Linked DNA regions of Homo sapiens: all the other regions are linked to region 1. Evidence: fine-mapped expression QTL. A gene starts in region 1. Each other region holds a variant in brackets. All regions are shown on one strand. Distances are from middle to middle. Region 1 holds the start of STK17B (serine/threonine kinase 17b). Region 2 overlaps HECW2 (HECT, C2 and WW domain containing E3 ubiquitin protein ligase 2). Region 3 overlaps DNAH7 (dynein axonemal heavy chain 7).

What was found. PIP is the estimated chance that this variant, and not a neighbour inherited with it, causes the effect.
Region 2: its variant is fine-mapped to the expression of STK17B in whole blood (TOPMed, PIP above 0.99).
Region 3: its variant is fine-mapped to the expression of STK17B in whole blood (INTERVAL, PIP 0.99).

What each region holds. Positions count from the first base shown.
Region 1 is chr2:196,167,674-196,175,958 of GRCh38, forward strand. STK17B (serine/threonine kinase 17b) reads right to left here and starts at 3,905. Exons shown (of 8, transcript NM_004226.4): 1 at 3,660-3,905. LOC101927454 (a long non-coding RNA gene) reads left to right here and starts at 3,866. Exons shown (of 2, transcript XR_923737.2): 1 at 3,866-3,958; 2 at 4,232-5,175. RefSeq lists silencers at 3,231-3,450, 3,971-4,200.
Region 2 is chr2:196,202,372-196,210,656 of GRCh38, forward strand. All of the region lies in intron 28 of HECW2 (HECT, C2 and WW domain containing E3 ubiquitin protein ligase 2), which reads right to left. Among named protein-coding and RNA genes, the nearest start is that of STK17B, 35 kb to the left of the region's middle. The variant G/T (reference allele first, on the strand shown) is at 3,347.
Region 3 is chr2:195,805,362-195,813,361 of GRCh38, forward strand. It overlaps DNAH7 (dynein axonemal heavy chain 7), which reads right to left. Exons shown (of 65, transcript NM_018897.3): 52 at 4,384-4,510; 53 at 3,321-3,515; 54 at 1,379-1,471. Among named protein-coding and RNA genes, the nearest start is that of SLC39A10, 150 kb to the left of the region's middle. The variant C/T (reference allele first, on the strand shown) is at 3,738.

The sequences.
Region 1 (8,285 bases):
ACTTGTTTTTAATATAAGCTACTAATACAAATACCTACTGCAGTTAAGAACATCACTCTTTTAAGAGCCTCCAAAAATCAGGAGATTCAGGTAAGTGTCCTATCAAGATTTATCACTGATAAGTCTAGATCATCATGAAGTACATTGGAAAGGCAACAGGAAGCAAAGTAAGCCCGAAGATTCTAAGGGAAGCAACTCCTTTCTACATAGGCATTTAAGGCATTTACTGCTAGCAAGCTTTCCCTAGGAAACTGAAAAAGAGATTTAACGTCCATCAAAAGTAAAGGAAGAACTTTCTCCTGGTGTGGCAGAAGTATGTGTTTTTAATTAGTCATTGATTAGAAGTATTGGTATCAAGATGGAAATGATGATGATTTTCAATTTCAAGGAAGAGATTATATTCCTCATATGTATTCTGCCAACAGGTTTTGTTTTTTAAAATATTTTGAACAGAAAATATAATTCATAAACTTAATCCTCTAAAAATCACAATAGGAAGTCAGCTAAACTAACTCTAATCCAACCATTCTAGTATATACTATCCAAGGGCTGAAGTGTCAGGCAATGACTCCTAGGCCTGACTCTGTGCCAAGACCCTAAGGCCTAATGCTGTGTCTTCCCACCTCCAGAAAAAGAGTTAAACCTGTTAATTGTGAACCAGGATAAAAGGTTGAAAAACGGAAATAGAGTGGGGGATTCCGGGGTGGGCAACAAATGCATGGTGCTTGTCACTCACAAGACGGAAAATTGGGTTTCTGTTGTAAAATATTGTTTACTTAATAGCACCGCTTAAGTACTATTTATTCAGTAACTATTACAATGCAAAATGGAATCTGCCTTTAAGGATTAAAGAGGAAATTACCATCTCACTGTTAAAATTTTTCAATGCTTACAGTATCACTACACCCTCTTTTGGAGTAATTGCAAAGGGTCAGGGATGAACCAAAATACAATGCATATAAATATTAAAAGAAACTAATATATATGTTTTAAATGGCACTGAAGTTTGAGGTTAAATGTTCTGGAAAAAGGATAATAAAAAACTTAATAAAGTATGCCCTGAAAATTGCAACATTACAACATATTTAAATAAAAATACATGCTTGTAACTTTATAAGAACATTTCTTAACTGAAATATTCAAAGAAATAGCCTTTGATAACAGCCCAGCATAGAATACAAACTACAGTACTTAAACATAAAATCACTGAATTTTGTCATCAATATTATGAAAAACTAAAGCAACTGACATTTGAAGTTTTCCTAAGTGGAAAGGTAGTAGATAAATGACTGCTAATGTTTCTGACAAAACAAATACCCATACAGTGCAGAAGATTTCTTTATGAAAAGAAGAATCAATCAGTATCCTTTAAAAGTAGTAAGCCTAGGAATACTATTTTTTTTTTTTTTTTTTTTTTTTTTGAGACGGAGTCTCCCTCTGTTGCCCAGGCTGGAGTGCAGTGGCGTGATCTCGGCTCACTGCAACCTCGGCCTTCCGGGTCAAGCAACTCTTCTGCCTCAGCCTCCCGAGTAGCTGGGACTACAGGCGCGCGCCACAATGCCCGGCTAATTTTTGTATTTTTAGTAGACACGGGGTTTCACCATATTGGTCTCGAACGCCTGACCTTATGATCCGCCCGCCTCGGCCTCCCAAAGTGCTGGGATTACAGGCTTGAGCCACTGCGCCCGGCCAGAATACTATTCTTAACTGCCAATCTTACATACAGAAAATGTGAATTACAATATACTATGCATGCAATTTTAAGGCAATTTAACGATTAAGTGAAAGTGTTATTAACTGAATTCCTTGACTTCTTGTGTCTCTAAAATTAAAGCAAAAATATTTTCATAAGGAAATTCTCCCTTATAATTATCAAAGAGCTTTAAAACATGTTAAAATGTTCACTTAACAAAAGTAAAACAGAGCAAGCTTAAAAATAAAATTATCTGATTAGAAACGTCAGCCATAAAAATGCTTGTATCTTCTTCAAATTTGTTACTCATATGCTAACACAGCGATTAGTCAAACCTCCAACTTCCTAAAAACGCATTCTATCTTAACCAAATCGTAATTCACTAATCAATGATCCCAAGAGAAACCGCAACCATTCTATTCACACACAAAAAAGGATGGTCTTCAATTACAGAAATTCTACTTTTAAAAAGTCTTGCCATGTAAGCAAATATATTTCACCTCAATTTTGGATCCCTACTTTAGAAAAAAAAAAAGATCTAAAATGTACAATATGTATCTCAAAAATAAAACATCTATTAATACCTCCAATTATTAAGATACTAGAAAAAGTTTAATTGAGCATCTGCTCAGAGGAGGAGGATCCGAGGCAGATGAGTTTAAAACTTTTGCACCGCTTCTATGGACCAGTTTTCTTAAAAAATACACAATCCTAGGGGTACACGGTCTAATATTTATAAAATAAGCACTTGTTGAAAATTACTTCCGAACAGTTCACCATAAAACTAAAAAACAGTGTTATCAATGAGAAAGTAGGTTTATTTTCCTTTAATAAAATTGTGCTCCTGGGTTCAAAATGCCAGGTTACATACGCTGCCACTCATTTCTACAGAGCTATGCTGTCTCCGCGCAGACATTCTCATAGACTTGAAAACGTAAAGTGGCCACACCACGTCAAACGTCCCTGGCAAGGTTCTGCTTATCATTAGCACCACAGATGTAAACATTACGTCGACAAAACAATCGGTGAATGTGATACACAGTCCTCATGTGTTTAAATATTAGTGAAATCTGATAAGTATTACGATTTTAAAAACGTATTTTCTTAATTCCAATTTCCAAATTGATGTCAGAGTGCCTCTAGTCCAGACAGAAACTAATGCCAGCTACCAGCTGCTATAAAGCCTCTTTCAACTTTGTCTCTACTTCTCCCTCGGAGGAAATTCAAATGAAACGCTTTTCCCTACAATAAAACAAAGAGCCTGGGTAAATGTCAAAAATCGTTGGCATCCAGTAGTGGTATAGTTTGAGGATGAGTCGTGCACACTAAGTGGGTCACAAGGCATCAAAGCAAAAATCAGATCGCTGAAAATCACGGAAACAGCTGTAGCCCGTCTTGATCTCTCGCTGGTTTTAAAACACTGTTCCCAAGCAGTAACTGAAAACGTCCCACAAGATGAACACGAACTTTCTCTAGACGAAAGGCAGCTGGGAGCAGGACGCGTCCACGAGTCCCGATGGGAACGCGCCCACGCCGCAGCTGGGACTCGGGAGAGGCTAGGGGGACCGCGTGGCCTTGCTGTGGAAGGGACCCGCGCGGGCCCGCCGCGAAGGGGGCCCTGCCTGGCGCGACCTGGGGAGAGCCGGGGCCGGCCGGGTGGAGGGCGCACGGGGACACACGGACACGCACAGACACAGACACGCGCCCCGGGCTGAGGAGGGTGGTGGGAGGACCGCCGGCCGCCCCCCGCGCGGAGCCCCAGGGAACCCGGACTCCAGCCGCAAAGCGGAGAGGCGCCAGCAGCAATCAGCCACCTCAGGGGCGGCGGAGTCCAAGCCCCTCTCAGCCGGACCGTACCGCCTAAACCCTCCTCGGGTCCTCCTTCCTCACGTATGAGGTCTCTGTACCGAGGCGGCTGGTTCCATCGCAGCCCCGAGCCAACCCGCCAATCCCGCAGGACACTAACCGCTCCGGCCGCCGCAGGTTCTCCCGGGACTGCCCCCTCCAGGGGGCCGCTGTCCCGCCCCACGCCGGGGGCCGCCACAGGACGAGTTCTCTAGCTCCAGCCGGGCGAGGCGCCAGGGAGCTCCGAACGTGGCAGGATCCACTTTTACTTTTCCAGACAAGGGCCGACGGTTGTGACCTGGCTTCTCGTGAAGTGACTCCTGGCGACAGCAGCGGAGAGGACTACCGAAGCTTGCAGTCGCGGTTTGAAAACTGCAGCCGCGTCTGGGGCATCGCCGTTCGCCAGATCCCTCCCCCTAGGTCGGGAGAGCCAATCGGAACGGGTGCGGAGGGTGGGTCTGTCACGTGACGGGAGGGGCGGGGCACCGGCCGGGGGCGCGTGTGCGGGGCGGGGCCCGGCGGTGAGAGGGTGCGGCGCCTGGCTGGCCCGAGGCGGGGCGGGGAGGCGCGGCGGCGTGGCGGCGCAGGTGGGGCGCACTCGGGCTGCCGCGAGGGAGGGGCGGAGGGGGCGGCGCTGCAGAGGGGGCGCGCGGGGCTGGAACTACTGCTCTGTGTACTCCTTCCCACCTTCAGAGAGGTCAGTTCGAGAGGTGTGAATATCCGGAGACCGGGGAGAAGGAAGCCGCAAAATTCGTCCCAGCTGCCTGCGACTAGTTACCAAACTTCAGTGCCTACCAAAGACCTATTTTCTGACTCTTCTTGAGAGTCTTCCTTAGGACCGGAACGTACCCTGTAAGTGGAGAACCCAGTTTGCTACAACTTGGCAGAGGTTCCTCGGAGTGTCAACATCAGTTGGGGATTTATGGAACCTAGACCCCACTGCTAACGTCCGCTGTCGCGAATGGTGTCCCTTCTGAGGCACTGACTGAAGGCAGTGTAGGGAGGGTCCCAATAGGCTGAATAGCCGATTTTGCATTTATAGTGCTAAGGAAAAAGATGAAAGCCCTCAGCAACCTACTCAAGATCTGTTATCCTTTGAAGACAGTGGAAATTTTCAAAGTTCTGTGCAAGACACAAATGTTTTACATAGATATATAATCCTAGTTTATATGTATAGGATACACACATACTCATACATATATGGGATTAGTTATGTAATCTAGGATTGCTTTCAGAGGACATTTACGATAATTGCAGAAAACCCTTCCGTGGGAAAGGATACTGGGAGTGGAGTCGTCCTCTTGCTTTCAAAAGACTTAATGTTCAGTTAGCATATAAAGGACAGGTTTTCTTGTTCTATCCCAGTAAGCCAAGCAAATTCCTGTGAAGCTAGCTGTTTCCCTTTCCTACTGCATTTTCCCCAAGATAAAGGTATAGAATGCATCACAGCCCTTTTATGAAGTCTGTTTGTTGTTACTTAGGTTAACTCCTCCTCCCAGGTTAATAATGTCTTGCCCCTAAACCTTGTCAAATGGAGAATATTGCTTCCATCTATCTAATTTCTTGTTGCTAACAATTGGGCTGACTAGAGAAGCCTAAAGTTAGGATGAAAATAAAATGCCACACACTGGAATTAACTTTTCTGGGGTATAAGAATCCGTAAGCAATGAGACTGTTCCCATCTTTTCTTTCATGAGCATAGGTGTTGCATTCCAGAGGTCTCAGCACCAGTACCAAAACTAGTAACCTCTTGGGGGTCACAGGATTACATCATTATGGTGGTTTTGGGGTTGTGTGTTTAACTTTGGACCTCCTTAATTTCAACATTTCATCAATTGCCAGCTTTTAGCAATCTTCTCACACTCACCCCATACTCCCCGTCACTAATCCAGTCCCAGATCACTTCACACCTAGACACAGACTTTTCTCTCTCTGGCACCACTGTAAGCCAGTCCTCTTGGTCACAATACCTCTGCTGTAACCAGCCAGCCTCCTAGGGATATTGTCATGTCTTGCATTTTCCTGCTTCTGCCTTAGCTCCAGCTTATCACCATCCTCCTCATCCATACCTGTTCATCAGTTTCTGACTTTAAGAAGGTTACCCTCTTCAGGAATCAGAACTCTGCTGATTCCTACTTTCTGTTCCCAGCCTGATCACCTCTGCCTTATGTTCTTTGGTGCAGGGCTGATAGTTTGTGTTTCTTTTATGACCCTAAATAGATTGTTAACCCTTGTGCCTGATGTCAGATTTGTTAACTAGGACTTACCACACTATCCCAAGGACATTCAACTACACTTACTTGGTCTCAGGCACTGTGGTTCAAGTAACAAGGAATTCCTGGTGCTGAGGAGGAGGCAGTACATCTGTGGCCTTGCAGGAAAATTCAGAAGTCAATACATTCCTCCATCCACCTCATTTACCTAAACTCATTCATCACCGTGTCAAAGATATATGTTCCTGCTCTCATTCCCTTGAGTAGGAAATCTCCAGGTGACCTGATGGTCATTCTGTGGTCATTGCTTCTGACCACACAGTTCATTAAGTTGACCATCCTTGAATGACACATTCCGACCAGGGATGGCGGTTGTTATGGGCTCAGTTGTGTTCTTTTCCAGTTCATACGTTGAAATTCTAACCCTCAGGAACTCAGAGTATGACCGTATGTGGAGATAGGGCCTTTAAAGAGGTAATTAAGGTAAAATGAGATAATATGAGTGGCCCCTGATCCAAGATGACTGGTGTCCTGATAAGAAGAAATTAGGACACATACAACACTGACTAAGGGACCACCCTGTGAGGACATAACAAGAAGGTGGCCATTTGCAAAGCAAGCAGAGAGGTTTCAGAAGAAACAAGACCTGCTGATATCTTGATCAACAGCCTCTAGCCTCCAGAACTGTCTGTTGTTTAAGCTGTCCGCTCTGTGGTATTTGTTATGGCAGTCCAAGCAAACAAATACAGTGGTCCTCCTGGATCACTCCAGGTTAGTAATCACACACTGACTGGGAGCGATGATCGTTCCCAGTCACTGCTTACCACATGTGGCCAGGGAAGGTGATCCTCTCCGGTAATGGCACGACACTCACCATATTCTGTCCAGGGAAGGGACCTTCCCCAGTCACATCAAGTCAGTCACCGCATACTGACCACATAATGATCAAGGAAAGTGATTCTCACCGATTCCATGTTTACTCCCTGTAGATGCAGAAAAGGAGGGTTTTGCACAGAGCAGAAGGCCTCAAACTCAAAACTCTTGCCACTGACACACCCTCCTTCTGAAGAATTCATGTGGAAAAGGCAAAACAAGCTCTACTACCTGTCTAGAACTGAATATACCAGAAACCTGTGGCTAGGCTAAAGGTAGCCAGACGCAGGCAAGGCCAACAGCCTCTGAAGGGGCGTGGCTCAACCCCCCACCCAACAGGGGTGCTCACTGAATGGAGACAGGCTCCTCCAAACAGATCCCCTCTCTGGAGGTAGGAATAGTGAGTGTACTCAGATGGAGATGTCGCAGTGCATTTACTCATGGTGCCTACAGCACATTGCAATTTTGAAAGCACTGAGAACCAGAGAGACTCTAAGAGACCTCACATCCCCTGACTCTCTTGAAACACTATTAGCAAAGCTAATTGGGGCTAGTTTTGTCTGATGAGAGTAATAACTCAGACTGGTACAAGTGTCTTCCTTAAAGGGTGACACAGCTTTCCTCTCCAAAACATCCATGATCAACTAGGGCCAATATGCCAATCCAACCACTCACTGCAGTTTATAGAGTATAACCTGTCCTGTAAAAGCTGTCCAAAAGAAATGCCACGCACATTGGCAAATGTTCTACTAGTCATATTTTAAAAAGTAAACACAGATAAAATTAATTTTAACAATTTATTTTATTTAACCCAATATTTCTAAAACATTGTCATTTCAACATGTAATCAACAAAAATTATTGAGACATTTTACTTCCTTTTTTAATATTGTCTTAAATCTAGTATTTTATACTTACAGCATGTCCCAATTCAGATGCCAAATTTTCATCGGAAACACTTGATCTGTATTTAGATTTCACAAAATTTACTGTTGCAAAAAGCAGATTCACATTCCTAAGTTGTTTTGAACAAACTAAAGTTTTTCACGCCAGGTGTGGTGGCTCATATCTGTAATCCTAGCACTTTGGGAGGCCAAGGCGGGCAGATGATTTGAGATCAGGAGTTCAAGACCAGCCTGGCCAACATGGTGAAACCCCGTCTCTACTAAAAATACAAAAATTAGCCAGGCATGGTGGCAGGTTCCTGTGATCCCAGCAACTCAGTAGGTTGAGGCAGGAGAATCACTTGAACGCAGGAGGCAGAGGTTGCAGTTAGCCGAGATTGTGTACCACTGCACTCCAGCTTGGGCGACAAAGCGAGACTCTGTCTCAAAAATAAATAAAGTTTTTCAATAACTAAATACAGTATCAGTTTCTTAATATAAATTTAATGACAATGAAATAAAATAGAAAATTTTGTCATGTTAGCCACATCCCAAGTGTTTCATGGCCACATGTGGCTACTAAGTTAGGCAGTGTAGGTCTGAAGGGCTAGAAACGTGCCTTCTAATTGTGTCTAAATTTCCAGTGCTAGAGACAATCAGAGCAGTCTGGAGCTAGAAAAATTCTTGCAGTTCAGTAACCCAACTCCCTTGTTTTAGAAGGGAAGAAACCTACAGTGAGAGAAGTTGAGGGACTTGCAAAAGATCACACACCTAAATT
Region 2 (8,285 bases), 35 kb after region 1:
TGGGAAGACCAGAGATTTGCAGTTGGACATATTTGGGTTTGGATTCTAGCTCTATCAACAAGTGTGTGATTTGGAGTGAGTTATTAAAACTCTGAGCCCGTATTTCTCACCTTTAAAAGGGTGGTTATATAACTTGTCTGAGAAGGATGTGAGGATTAAGTGAAATAACAGAAACATGCTTAATAGAATGACTGGCTCATAGTGTTTGACCAATTAATAATAGAGGTATTGTTAGCTACATTTCATTACTATCAACAAGATTTGACTCTAATTGCCTTCAGTGAATTGCCACAAATAGTAATGACCCATGAGAATGATGAGATAATAAAGGGATAATAAAGCAGGTGTGTGGCCACATGGCTTATTAAAAACAGGAATGTGAACAGGATCTGTTATATTGTAAGAATACAGATAGAGTATTCCTTATCCAAAATGCTTGGCACCAGAAGTGCTTTGGATTTCAGATTTCTTTGGAATTTGGAATATTTGCATATATATAATGAGATATCTTGGGGAATGGGACCCAAGTCTAAACATGAAATTCATTTACGTTTCACATGCACCTTGTATACACAGACTGAAGGTAATTTTATACCATATTTACATAATTTGGTTCATGAAACAAAGTTTTGACCGCGTTTTTGACTGCACCCTGTCATATGAGGTCAGTTGTGAAATTTTCTACTTGTGGCATCATGTTGGCACTCAAAAAGTTTTGGATTTTGGAGCATTTTAGATTTAAAATTTTTTGACTAGGGATACTCCAACTGTATGAGTTTTAGGGTATAGAGATAGTACCGACTCACCCACTCCTAGTACTGTAAACTCTGGGATATATTGGTGGAAATCATCTAATGAATCTTTGCAGGCAAACCCTTTTTTGATACAATAAGCATTTCAGAATTGCATTTGATATCCTTAGACTGGAACGCAAATTGAGCCTCAAGAAAAGGTTTTACTTATTTAAAAATTCAACTTGTATACTACACTAGAGTCCTAGCAGTGGTTTATAATCTATCATCTGTGAAACACTGGAATAAAAATATTAAATAAAGATTTATCTCTGTTCCAGGGGTAGGGGAGGAAGAAGCAGAAAAGTAGAATACGTTTTGAATATAATTCTATGCCAAACTGTGTGTGTCAGACAAATAACATTTATTATCCTATTAGACTAACAGATGACACCACAATACTATTTTACAATTTTCATTTCTTTGGTTACCAATAAGGTTGAGCATCTTTCCCCCATGTCCTCTTGCTTTTTACATTTCCTGTTTTGTGATCCATATGTTCATCTCTCTTGCCCGATTAACTTTTCAGTATTTTTATTGTGATAAAATATACATAATATAACATTTACCATTTTAACTATATTTAAGTGCACAGTACCATGGCATTAGTACACCTACGTTATTTTGCAACCATCATCACTATCCATCTCCAGAACTTCTGCATCTCGCAAAACTGAAATCTGTATCCATTAAATAGTAACTCCCATTTCCTCTCCCCCTAGCCCCTGGAAACCACCATTCTACTTTGTGTCTCTATGAATTTCACTACCCTATGTACTTCATATAAGTGGAATCTTAAAATATTTGTCTTTTGTGATTGGCTTATTTCACTTAGCATATTTTAAGGTTGATGTTGTAGCATGGGTCAGAATTTCCTTCCTTTTTAAGGCTGAATAATGTTCCATTGTATGTATATACCACATTTTCTTTATTCATTCATCCATTAATGAACAGGAGTTTTTTTCCTACCGTTTGGCTATTGTAAATAATGCTCCTATGAACATGAGTGTACAATTATCTGTTTAAGTCCTCCTTTTCAATTTTTTGGGGGATATACACAGAAGTGCAACATCATATTGCATTTTTCATAGTGGCTGCAACATTTTACATTTCCATCAACAGTGCACAAGGGTTCCAATTTCTCTACATCCTCACCAACACTTATTTCTTGTTTTTTGTTTGTTTGTTTGTTTGTTTTATAATAGCTATTGTAATGGGTATGAAGTCCATTCACCTTTTAAAGCCTTAGGATTTCTTATTAAAATCAAGAGAGACTCTCACTGTTGTTGAATTTGAAGAAGGAAGCTACTATGAATTCTATAGCTGCAAGGAATGAATGCTGCCAACAACCCAAGGGAACTTGGAAGCAGATTCTTCCCTAGTTGGTCCTCCAAATGAGAATGCAGCCCCACCCACAGCTTGATTTCAGCCTTGTGAGACCATGAGCAGAAGACCCAGCTAAGCTGTGCCTGGATGCCTGCTCCATGAAAACAGTGAGATCATAAATGTGTGTTGTTTTACACTGCTAAATTTGTGGTAATTTGTTTTGCATCAGTAGAACCAGTAACAGGTCTCAAGGTAGTGAAACAGTTCAAGAAAAGGTGGCAAATGTGATGTTAAGTGTGATACAGTAGAATCATCTATCCAGGACAGGTGGTGAAACAAAGCTAGGGGTTGGCAACAGTTCTTTCATTCTCCCAGGTTTCTGAGTAGAGAAACAGGAACTTTGAATGTCTCTTTGCCATTTCTGTAGTATCTTTGCAGGTACTCTAGAAGCTTATCCAGTAAATCCACAAGCCTAAATACTCTTTTCAGTTCTCAACACAAAGGGAAGGCAAAGGGAAGGACTAGACAACCTTTTTTGTTCCTCTGCAGTCGTAAGACATAATCAGCATTACTAATCCATAATCTAAGGCTATTGCTGCTTCATAAATTACATCTGGTTGCATAATATATGGTTACCATAACACAACTTTCCTTCTAATAAACTAAACAGCTCCTCTGGAAAATATTTCGCGATGATGGGGAAAGCATATATTGTGGAGGGGGAAACTGTGTGGAAAGATTAAATGGTTTTCCCAAGGTCAAAGCTGAGTCAGTGGCCAAATCAAGAAAAGGACCTCAGTTCTGGGTCTCCTAGGGAAAGTCCAACATTAAACTGAAAGCGGGGAGATTAATGCTCATGGCTTCATTCTTTTACTTTTGGAAGCCTGAGTATTAATTTTATCCTACCTCTGACTACGAACTATTATTCCTCAACATCCTACTAGATTATCCACATTTTGAGGACAAGGATTGGCAAAATAAAGCTTCAGATATTTTTTAAATGAATAATTCAATCACAATATGCAGTAGCTCTGGGGAAAATGGCTGAGATTGAGTCAATCCAGAAAACCCTGAAAAATACCAGGGGATTTTTAGGTGATCATACCATCTAGCTCAATCTCAGGCTTAATAGAAGAAGGCAAATACTCAAAAGGATACTTTAGAGTGTATCAAAATCACTCCAGGAGCTTGTTTTACAATGGAGATTTTTGGTTGCACCCCTTGTGATT[G/T]TAATTCAGAAGGTTTGGGGTGGGCCTGGGGGAATATGCATTTTAATAAATATGCCAAGTGAGTCTGATGCAGGTGGTCTCCACTATTGGAGAGGCATCAAGTGGATTAGCAACATGATACCTACATTGGCTATTTGCACCAGTGTTTTATGTGCTTGCAGAAATTTCAAAACTCCTTATAAACAAGACAGCATTGCTAATAAGGAAATTGAGGAATAGTGTGGTTAAATAAATTGCCCAATATTTACCATCAACTTGCTCTATGAGCCAAGGCCAGGAAAAAAACAAAAAAAATGGCAAGCAACACATAATCCTTGGAGGCTTTTCACACCCCCACTCCCACCCCATTCCATGTCCTAAGAAAACTTTAGCAGAAAATAACAGGAGGGCCCTGGACTGTGTTGATGTTGGCAGCAAAAGTGCATCCAGCTATTCAGTCTCAATAAAAGAACATTTTTCAAATCTTTCAAAGCCAGTCACACTAAAGCTATAATGGGTTTACCTCATTTTAATCTATTTAGCCAGAACCACTCAAGGAAAGCAGGTCTGAACCCATCTTTGGGAAATCATGCTGGCATCAATATTAAGAAGATTTAAAAATTCTCCAGACATCTGGTCTGACTTAATAGATCTCTTGGTGCTTTCTGGATTCTTCAAAAATGTTAATCAGGAGGTCACATGCTTACCCTCCCTTTTTCCCTACAGATAGACAAGTCAATTAGATAAATCCAGTGAGCCAAAAGTATCAGTTACATTTCCATTTCCATAGATTGGTTTGTTGATTAATTTCTCTCTCTGTATGTGAATGTACTTAATTTTCCAATTTGCATTATATTTCATTTATTCCTTCACTCGCTGAATAAGTACTTACTAAGCATATACTCCATGCCAGGGATTCAGCTGTCCTCTGAGAGATGAGGATGAAAAGTCTGGTTTCTGTCCTCAAGGAGTTTACACTGTGGCAGCAAAATATACAGGCAAAAAGACCCTCTAAAGTTTGTGTATCCTGTGCTCTGGGGCAAGCAGGAACTGAAATCCAGCCTTCCTTTGGCTCTGCTTGCCAAATTGTGAGCCCTAGCTGCAGGCTGCATTTCTCCAAAAGGCTAGGAGACACCTTTGTTTCATTAGTCCCAAAGATGGGCTATTAGTGGCCCTGCATACAAACAGTTAATAATACTATGAGTTACAAGTTTGCTCAGCAGAGCCAAGGAAGGTTCATAGAGGACACTATCTGTGCCAAGGCTTGAAAGATTTGTAGGTGTGCAGGTTTTCTCTGAATCAACAACAAGGAGAAGGATGTTCCCAGCAGATGGAACATGACATTGCATCATCAGGAAACCTGAGAGGGGCAAGCGCCTAAGGGACAGGAGGCAAGGTTGGACCTGAGGCCAGATGGGGAGGCAGGGACACATCAGGAAGCCAGGAGTGTTCTTGCAAAAACCTTTTCCAGTTATTTCATGGATGAAAGAAAGAAAAGTGGGTTGGCAGAGGTATCTTTAAATAAGGCAGGGAATATAGGAAATGGGTAGAGGGACAGATGATGAATTCAAGGGCGTGAAATCAGCATGAGAAATCCAAAGTTACCAATTAAATAGAGTGATCGAATTCCATTAAAGGAATCCAGTTATAGTTTTGTTAGCCTGGGTAGCTTTATTAACACAACTAATGGTAAAACTTGTTAGAATTTTTAAAATATTCATAATTTATCTAATATCCTCATGAATACCTTCTTAGGCCATGAGGTTTAGAGCAGAAATTCCTATTAAGAGTAGGGCACAAATATGTGTGTAACTTATGGCAGCAGAGCACAATGCCCTGACCTTCACCAGGTGTTCGGTAAAGGTGAATTCATGGAAAGAAATTCTATGGTGCTTGCTATTCCAACTACTCATTGGTCATGTTCCATTTTGGGACCAATGATGTTGGTTATCTGTTCATGTAAATATCCATTGCTTCTCTCCCTGTGTTTTAAGGTCAACGTATATCTCCCACAAGGTTCGGCACTTAGTAAAGCCATGAGGAGTATCTATAGACGGGTGAGGGGAATTAATCTATTCACTAATTAATGTCTTATTCCAAAGTCTCATTAGGTCACTTTGGTTAAGGTGCACTTGGATCTGTAAATACAAAGTGGAATATTCCCATAGGGGGGAATTCCTGTATCTGGGGTAACTAGCAGAAGAAACTCTTCAAACTATGCATTCTGAGCAGGTACCTTCTTCACTTGTGAATGCCTCTGGGGAGAGATAAAGAGGGTACATACTTTTCAAATGTAAGAATTTAAACCAAACAGAACAAAGTCCAGTAAGGACAGTTCCAGGAATGGAAACCCCTGTAAGTCCAAACAAAATACAAACACGCTGGGTGAATATGGCACATTTCTCACACACCTAAAGACTATAAAGTATCCGGCCAGCCCTGAAGGCTAGATATTAGGAAGAATAGTAAGAATGGCTAAATTTATTGAATGATGTTTTAGGCCTTATTCTAAGCACTTTGCATGTTATCTCATTTAATCTTCAAAACAACTTTGTAATATAAATGCTAATTTCTATCCCAACTTTTCAGATATGGATACAGAGATATGAAAGTCTGGATTATGATTTTGGAATTTCTTGTCTGGAGTGGTCCAAAGTTATCCCTAAAGATTTCAAATTCACTAAAAACAATATTTATGGAGTACATGTGCTAAGCACTGGGCTCACTGCTAGGAGCAAAGCCATGTTTAATTCAGATAAGGTACTTGTTCTCACAGGATTATACTCCAGAGGAGGAGACAGATAATCAACAAGTAAACCAATAACTGAACATGATGACTGAATTGGGTCAAGCCTAGTGAAGGAAGTAAGGGGTGAAAGAGTGACAGGTGCACTAAGGACAGAAGCCTGGTGGGCCTTTCTCAGGAGATCACCTCTAACCCGAGTCTTGGGGACAAGAAAGAGCCAGGCATGAAGGACCAGCAGATAAGTGTTATAGGCAGCAATTCCCTGAGCCTTGAAGCATAATTGAGTTTGGCATATTTGAGGAATACACAGAAGGAGGCTGGTAGGTGTCATGGGTTGGGGGAGAGGGTACATGTTGAGGTTGCAGGAGGAGGCAGACCAGGGCCCCACAGGAAGTCCTTGGGAAGGAGTCTGGATTTTATTCTAAGCCACCAGAGGGTGTAGGCAAGGGAGGGAGGTGACCTTGAGATGTTTGCAGATCCCAGTGGTTGTTGAGTGCAGAATGAATGAATGGTGGGATGCAGGAGAAGCAGGGGATTTAGCCAGCAGTCTACTGCAGTAGTCCAGGTGAGGGGGGATGGTGTCATGGACTAGGCTGGTGGAAAGAAATGAGCCCAAACTGGTTTTTGCTCTTGAGGCCAAGGAAAAGTGGGTAAGCATTCTTTAACTGTTGCAATGTCTGTCACTCACAAATAGACACTTTAAAATCTGACTTGTGAAATAGCTCTCAAGGACCTTTAGTAGATTTGACTTGGACTATCCTGTCCTCTGTTGTCAGCAGCAACAATGCTGATGGAATGCAAGTGGAATGATTATCTCATTCCATTAAAGTCACAAATTCTTTCAATAGCTTGACGTTTTACATTAATTACAGAAGAGTCCCTTTTTTTAATACAATCTGTTTTTATGATAAATTTACCCACCTCCCAAAGTAAAGACCAATCCAAAAGGTATATGACATTTAAGAATCTTTAATATGGTGATGTGATGGGTTAACTCTGGCATGTTTTTGTTAGTACATGCAGATTCAATGGCAGAATAAAGTGAAAATTTAAAATACAGTTATATAGAACTGAGTGAGAGGGCAGAGGGGAAAGGAGTTGAAGAGAGTCTTGGACCTGAGGTTCAACTACAGAGCAGACCACTGTATGAGAATCTCCTGTCAATTCTCTCCCACACGAAAAGCCACATCAGCTCATCAGCAGGCGGTAGGGAATTAGGAAGACCAACGAGGGACACCTCAGGGCAAATATAGAAAGGAGATGGCCCCAAAGGGTCCTTCTAGTACTCATCTCTTGTTCTGATGGTTTTTCTTTCTTTCTTTCTTTTTTTTTTTTTTTTGAGACGGAGTCTGGCTCTGTCGCCCAGGCTGGAGCGCAGTGGTGCGATCTCGGCTCACTGCAAGCTCCGCCTCCCGGGCTCCCGCCATTCTCCTGCCTCTGCCTCCCGAGTAGATGGGGCTACAGGCGCCCACCACCACGCCCGGCCAACTTTTTGTATTTTTAGTAGAGACGGGGTTTCACCATGTTAGCCAGGATGGTCTCCATCTCCTGACCTCGTGATCTGCCCACCTTGGCCTCCCAAAGTGCTGGGATTACAGGCGTGAGCCACTGTGCCCAGCCTGGTTTTTCTTTTAATTGAGGAAAGTGACATTGTATTTCAGGACTTGGTTATTTTCCGGTATACTGGCTGATAATTCACTTTGACAGTAGACAATGCTCCCTATAATGGAGGAGGGAAAACTGAATTATTGATAACATTACAGAGCAATATTTAATGACATGGAAAGATGTTCCATGTGATAAACGGAATGTTGTTTTAAAATGTGTGTGTGTGTGTATGTGTGTGTCTGTGTGCCTGTGTGTACCTGAAGAAATGAGTGAAATCACATACTCTAACATGTTAACAGAGCTTATCTTAGTAATTGACTTTTTTTTCCTTCAGAAATGGTATCTCTCTATGTTGCTCAGGTTTGACTCAAACTCCCATGCTCAAGCCTTAGCCTCCCAAGTACCTGGGACTCCAAGCATGCACCACCATGACCAGCTAGTAGTGGACATTGGGTGGACATTGGATTGATACATATGTAGGTATTTTAATATATATTTAATATATACATATATTTCTTAGCAATTTTTTGTAAAATTTTCTTTTTATAAATTAGAATAAAAAGCAGATTTTTTTTTCTTTTGAGATGGAGTCTCACTCTGTCACCC
Region 3 (8,000 bases), 360 kb before region 1:
ATGTTTTAGAGGAGGAAGCCACATTAAACAACAGTGTGAAGCATCTCATATTCTCCCATCTTTAACATATGAAGTGAAAACTTGTGAGGCTTAACACTAGCATTTTCATGGAGATTACATTTTTTAAAAGGGCTACCAAGGGGTAGGATGTCTCACCAGGGTCATAAAGAATGCTAAACTACTGTAGTTACTTCCAGCATAAGAGAGTGGGGTAGCAGAGTGACTTTCGTGGACCCAAGGTACTTCATAGGCCCCTTTCTCCTTTAAAAAAAATTAAAAATTATATTTTACCATTGTTGGTATAAAGACAAATATACACACACTGGATTATATTCTTCTGATTTTAAAAGAAACTACAACATTTTCATAGACCCCTGGAAGTATTCTGGTTCCCAAGCACTGTGCCTCCTGTGCCTAATGGATACTTGGGCCTTGGCTAAGAACAGACTGCCACATCATGCAAGAATTACATGTGTTCAGTGAACAGAGTAGGGCTCATAGAGGGAAAAATGCCCCTAACCCATATTATCACTGATGTGTATTTTTAAAAAATTAATACATTACTTTGACAATCTAAATTCTGCTTTATTTTTTTTTCTTTTGGTTAGGATGGAGATATTTCTCCTATTCCTTAACAGATGAAACTGAATATAAGTTTTGAAATATTTATGTCAAACTTTAATTTGAGTGGTAATAATGGACAACTAGGATATTTTCTCAATTTTTTCCAACATAGCTAATGTCTATTTTTTTTTTTTAGAGCACATTGATATCTTTGTGGTATCGGTCAATATTCATAGGTGAATTTTTTTATCTAATACAAATGAGGATGTTAATGAATACTGACATTTGCTAATATAACAGGTCTGCTGATTCACTGGTTATATAATTTATTATTTAAAGAAGTTAAAAGTAACAATATTGACATTTTCCTTTGTTGTCAATAATGACGAATGTCTTAAATTCAAATTCCAACAAAAAACTATATATAAGGATAGCACTTGAGAAGTCCACAGATTCTAGTCTATCAGCTTGATGTTGACATCACTGACTAATTTCACCAAAGTATTAACAGTAAAGATAAGACTACAAATATGTAAAGGGAGTAGATTGTGAGTACTGAAAACCATAAATTAAAAACAAATAATCACAAAATAAATAAAATTATACAATATAATCCAACTAGTTACTGATTTAGGATGGTTTTAGAAAAATATACAAACTTTTTGAAAAAAATGTCTGCATTAGAAAGAAGTGGGATTATTTCCCGCAGGCTCCTCTACCTCCCCCATGATTACATAAGGAAACGCACATTTGGATGGACTGAGCAGGCATAAGGCTTTGGAATCATTGAGCTGTTTTCAAAGCCCACATTTACCTTGTCTGGCCTCAAGCAACGAATAATAAGCATCCTTTGAAACTCATTTGCTTTATCTTCCCATTCTTCAGGGAAAACCTCATGGTGTGGTTCCTAAAATTACAGTGTAAATAATTCAGTTATTTTGGAGATTATAAAGAGAACAGTATTTTCACTTATAAACCAACTTTTAGAATATATAAATGAAATCAAGAATGCTTGTCTAAATTTTACTATTTAGTGTAAAGTTGGGACATTATAAAATAAATAATAATAAGAAAAGTTAATATTCTTTAAAGGAGTCAAAACAAGGACATGAACTAATCAGGTTAATGTCGACATGAACACTAATAAACAGACAAAATGATCCCTATTATGAAAAAAGTAAATGTGCATATGCTACTATTTTCCCTTTATTCCTCCAAACACAGGCATTCTTTTTTTTTTTCTTTTTTTAAGATGGAGTTTTGCTCTGTCGCCCAGGCTGGAGTACAGTGGTGTGATCTTGGCTCACTGCAACCTCTGCCTCCTGGGTTCAAGCAATTCTCCTGCCTCAGCCTCCTGAGTAACTGGGATTACAGTGGTGCACCACCATACCCAGCTAACTTTTTGTATTTTTAGTAGAGATGGGGTTTCACCATGTTGGCCAGGCTAGTCTTGAACTCCTGACCTCAAGTGATCCACCTGTCTTGGCCTCCCAAAGTGCTGGGATTACAGGTATGAGCCACTGCTCCCAGCTGGAACAAAAACATTTTTAAAAACCTACCCACTTACCTCATCATCTATTTACAAAAATAAATAAATATTTCAAAACAAGTAAAAAGGGTATTGTACTGAAATTTATTGTATTATTTCTTGTTTTTTAAAAATACTGTTTTATAAAGGAAGACTTGAGAATGTGTGTAATGAAGAAGCCAATTGAGAGCTATTAAAAAATCACAAGAAGAGAGCCATCAGGGTACCAGAAGGGGTAAACCTTGGTGGGGAAAAAAGGAAACGTGTACCTGTGAAACTTTAGGAAAAGCTATGTGGTATCTCAAATTAGAAATCTTCATGCTTCAGCATAGTAATAAAATTTTAATTTTAAATTAGTTGAGGTACTCACAACACATACTTGTCTCTAGAAAACATTTTTATTACTAACAAGGAGAAATCCAAAAGAGATCACTTCCAAATATTTGAATTCGTGTGAAGACATAATCTCATTCTCACATATAATACAACAATATAGGTTGTATAGGTAACAAAATAAAGTATAGGTTAACCAAACAAAACATACTCTCTGCATATCTAGCTTTCTTTCCTCCAACCTCTCCCTAGGAGAGCTCTTGCATATTAAACTCACAGAAAGCAGGAAGTCAAGAGAGTAGAAACAAAGGAATAGAAAAAATTAACTGGGAATTGGAAAAATATTAGCCCTTGTGTTAAAGAAAAATTGAGAGAAAGCAACAATTGCTATATATCCCAGATGGGAAACTGTGAATATTATGTCTGTGTCAAGTATAATACTCCCCAGTTAGTAAAACAAGGTCTCGTGAAAGTTGTTTTAGAACTACTGTACAAGCTTTTTCCTTTTCTCAAATGACACACACACAGAATTTTATCAGCTTGTATCCTGCATTCAGAAAATCTAAACAACAGCTGTTCCATAAACTTTAACTCATCTGCTATTAGGATTGCCAAAATCTACATTGATAATGAATAAAAATCTGGCATGGAAATTCAACAAGTATATTCTCAAGAACCACACAGCATTCTTGCATCTTAATACATTTCAAGGAGTTTGAATGGAAGTTCAAACAGAACCACTGACTTAGAAGGGGGGATAACATAAATCAAAATTTGCATTCTAACATGTGACCAGTTGTTTAAAGCTTATTTAAATCTTGCTTTTATGAAAAGATACTTAACATTCTTTTCTCCATTTAAAAACATTGGAATAAGTGAGAGGGTTAAAACATACCAAACTATCATATACTTTCTTCCATCCATCCTTTAAGCGCATAAACTCTCTACGAATGGTTTTGAAGGCAGGCAAATCATCTAATCGACATATTTCATCCCAGGATTTCTGAGGAAGCCATGTACAAAGGTTGGCATAAGGATTATCCAGTCCAATGCCACCAGTTAGCAGAAATCTCCACTCAGCTTTATTAATCTTTGGAAAACAAGGCAGCGTGAAGAGTCAGAAACGAGTTCATCATAAACTAGTAAGCTTACAACCATTATAAAAGAGTTGAGTGTTGACTTCCAAGTTTCAGATGTGGTCTCTATGAAATTCTATAGCTAGTGTTATAGCTCAATATTTATTCATAGGAAACCAGTATACTCATGATAACCAGTTTTCAAAATAGTTCCATTTCAAATAGTTACTTTTTGA[C/T]AATTTTCCTCCAGAATTACTTGTCTAAATGTGAAAATCTGAATATGTTCTATTCGAATACGTGTTTTCCAAAATGACTGCCTAGAGCCCTATTGGCTCTAGAAATTGTAGAAAGGCAGAAACCCATCAATGTGCCATGTTTTTGACTATTTTCCATAAAGTATAATGAGTTACTGATACACAACTTTTGCAAGAAATGCAAGAATAAAGTATTTATTTCTTCAGAATTCAACCAATACATCACCATATAAAATCCATAAATCTTAAACACGTAAGTGTATAAAATAGTGACTTTACACAGATTTCAGTAATTTGCACAAGTCTTTAAAAACATTTACACTACTACCTGGTGTAAACGTATCAATATTAAGTAAATTTATATGCATAGCTGTATGAAAATCTAATATAATCAATTTATTTTAAAATAAAACATAATTTAATAGTAACATAATGAAATCTGTGCTTAATTTATATCTCACTTCTGTGAAATTTATCCTCCTGATAACATCTTGCCTTAACTATAATAACAAACAGTATTATTGCTTAACTATTTACAATCTTTTTATATATATTCCCATACAAATTAATAAATTAATGAATCAGCGTTATTAAGGGTTTTTTTCTTACAAATGAAAACAGTACTGACCGCCCGCTCATGCAGCAGTAGATTTATGGTTAGACAAAAGGAAAAGAGCAGCTTATCCTTTTCAAAGAGTGACCGGCAGACATTAACATACAGTGAATAAGTAAAGTGATCCTTGAGAATCTGAAGCCTAAGGGTCAACAGAAAATAAAGGAAATAAATAAAAATATACTTTAAAGATAATGCTCTTAAGAAACTTACATGTATGTTCTTCTGATAAACTTTCTGGTCAATTACCCCCCAAACAATCAAGAATCCTCATTAATTGGGTGTACCAATTTGAGAGCTACACAATGTAGAAACACTTCAGTCCAATTGCATTTTACTGTGGACTGAGTTTTTTTTTTTTAAAACTTAATCTTCCTCTTGGAAAAAAGTTAGTGGATGGTATATTAATCTGTTAGATTAAAAAGTTTACAGACTGTTTTTATCTACAAAGCATTTCTGGGGGTAAAATTTGACCTCTTTATAACAAATAATTTCAAATGTTTTATATTGTATATTAAATGAATAGTCTAAAATTAGTAGCTTCTTTATTAAATTTAGTATTGTGCTACTCATTATAAATTCATAAAAGCTGAAGAAATCACAAAACTTGGCAAACTCCATTTTTATTTGCTAGAGGCAAAACACGAAAATAGGAATAATCACAATATTTCCTTTTTATTATTTATTTATTTATTTGAGACAGGGTCTCACTCTGTCACCCAGGTTGGAGTGAGTGCAGTGATGCAATCTTGGCTCACTGCAACCTCCACCTCCCTGGCTCAAGCCATCCTCCTGCCTCAGCCTCCCAAGTAGCTGGGACTACGGGCGTGCACCACCATGCCTGGCTAATTTTGGCAATGTCCTAACTGATATTCTAAGCTGTCAATCATCCTAGCTTTTTTTTTTTTTTCCCACTTTTCCTTACGTGCCTATTTTCTTAACTATTTTATCCCCTGCAGCATTCCCATAAAGAGAATTACAACAAATTGATGTATCTTATTTTTAATTGGGAACTTCAAAAAAAAGGTTTTTGTAGAGAAAGCCTTGGCAATAGTTGCTAAAATACAGTTGAATTCTTAGAAGACTTAAAATAAACATACTATTTCTGTCCCCATTATTATGCTAATAGGTTGTCTTTTCATGCATGGCATTGAATTTGTCTCACTTGTAGCAGTACCATACAATTAATACAGGGTGACTCACATTTGGTCTTTTCAGAGTAAAACAAAATTTTCTGCACTTTAAAACAAGTCTCTTCTTGTAGACAGAAAGATTGAAGGGAAATTATAAAGGTTAATCATATTATAAGTTCAGGTTCAATCACTAGTAAAAATGGACATATAATATGATATGTTAATAACCTTTTAAGGTGAAAAAGAAGATTAAAATTATCATTCTCAATGCTGGTGAGTGATACAGTGATATAGGATCATTCATATTCCTCTGATGGAATTGTGTGTTTGAATAATCTTCCAGGAAAGGAATTTATATCAGGAATCTGCAAGAAGTGAACACCTTTGTCCTAATTTTGGGATTTCAGCCTAAGAAAATAATCAAAGATGCAGACACTTATATTTACTGCAGCATTACTTACAATATAAAAGCTGGAGACCACTTAGAAGTGTTTTTATTTATTTGTTTGTTTGACAGGGTCTCTGTCATCAAAGCTGGATTGCAGTGGTATGATCATAACTCACTGTAACCTAGAACTCCCGGGCTCAAGCAGTCCTCCCACTTCAGCCTCCCAGGTAGCTGGGACTACAAGTGCATGTCATCACGCCAGGCTAATTTTTGCATTTTTTGTAGAGACAGGGTTTTGCCATGTCACCCAGGCTGGTATCGAACCCTTGGGCTCAAGCAATCTGCCCGCCTCAGCCTCCCCGAGTGCTGGGATTACAGGTGTAAGCCACCCCACCCAGCCAAAAGTCTTATAATACAAAAATTATGGTACATTCATACAATGGTATGTATATTGTGCAACTCCTAAAACTTATGTTTCAGAAGAATACTTAATAACATGAGAGAATGGTCTTGATAGAAGTGAAAGAAAAAAAAAACTGTGTGCGTAATTATCAAATTGCCTTTGCAAAATTATGAGAGTAAGAGAAATCTGAAATAGCTGACTCCATCTTGCTTCTGGCCTCACAGGCTGGCTGTCTTGGTTCATTCCTGGGCATGGGCGAAGCTAACTTTGGAAGAAATTTAGTTTACTAGCCATGATACCAGAGGTGGTAAGATTTGCAACTTCCCCAATCACTCCTGTAAATAACATCACTATTGTAGAACCTAAGATTGACCTTTTGGGCTATCTTTTCAGGCTTTTGCATTTCTGACTATTGGATGGCCTCACCTAGACCAGCAACTCCTCTGGCAGTCCCCACCCAGAAGCAGACTCAGGGAAGACTGTTTTCCTTGCTGAGTTCCTATGATTGTGTTTCCAACCGATCAGCATGCCCTCCTCCCTAACGCCCTGCCCATCAAACTATCCTTGAAAAGCCCTAGCCTCCGAATTTTCAGGAGATTAATTTGAGTAATGACTCCATCTTCAGCATGGTGTGGCTGGCCTCACATCAGTTAAACTCTTTCTTTATCACAATGTCATGGTCTCAGTGGGTTGATTTTCTATGGGCGGCAGACAGGAAGAACCCATTGGGTGGTTACAATTACATATACATGCATATTTGTACAGCAACAGATTGATTCCAGGATATTTAACAAAACCATATCCTAGTTAGATTTGGTTTCTATATTTATGTTATTTTTGTTTTATTTTGCTTGCTACATAAAGTTATTTATTCTGTTACATAAATTCTAATGCATTAAAATCTTATAAATAACAGATGATCCAAGTTATGGCAATTGCACAGTATATACCATACTAGTCGTAACATAATACATTCTTGGTACCATATAATAATCACTACCAGAAGACAAACAAGAATGAAATACATTTATATCCCTAAATAAAAAGAAATGAGAAATAATTTTAGACCAATATTAAGATTCTAAAACAATCAGGTTGGCTAGTGTTAATAGTCACATGTTTTCTATGCTTTTGGTAGAACTATCGTCCAATAACTGCCTGAAGTCTACCAGTTATTTGATGACTATCAATGATTGGCAGAAAAACAGATCATTTCTGTGAGAACTCATTCTCTTTTTAATTTCTGATTTGGGAGCTAGCTTCTTAATTGGAAACTCTTAGTTTACTTTAACAACAAAAAAAAGATTAAATAGGACTGATCAAAGTTTCTCTCTTGGTATAATGCTTTGGAAAACTATTGGCAGTATTTACTAAAAGGGAATATAACCATGCCCTGTGGTCATCAATTTCATTCCTGGATATACACCCACCAAAGACAGATACATATCGGCACCAAAAGCCATGTACAGGAATGTTCAAGGAAGCAAAATTTCATAATAACCCCAAGTTGGAAGCTACCCAAATATCCTCAACAGTAGAATGGATAAATGATTTGTGTTACAGTATTAGGACAAGTAAAAATTGAAAATAAGAGACTCAATTCTTTATGTTGAAAATAAGGAGAGAGATTTTCCTTCCCTCCTTTTTTTCTTAATTTAGAAAACCTAAAATTATAGGTACTTCCTCCTCTCGTTGAATATAAACCCTT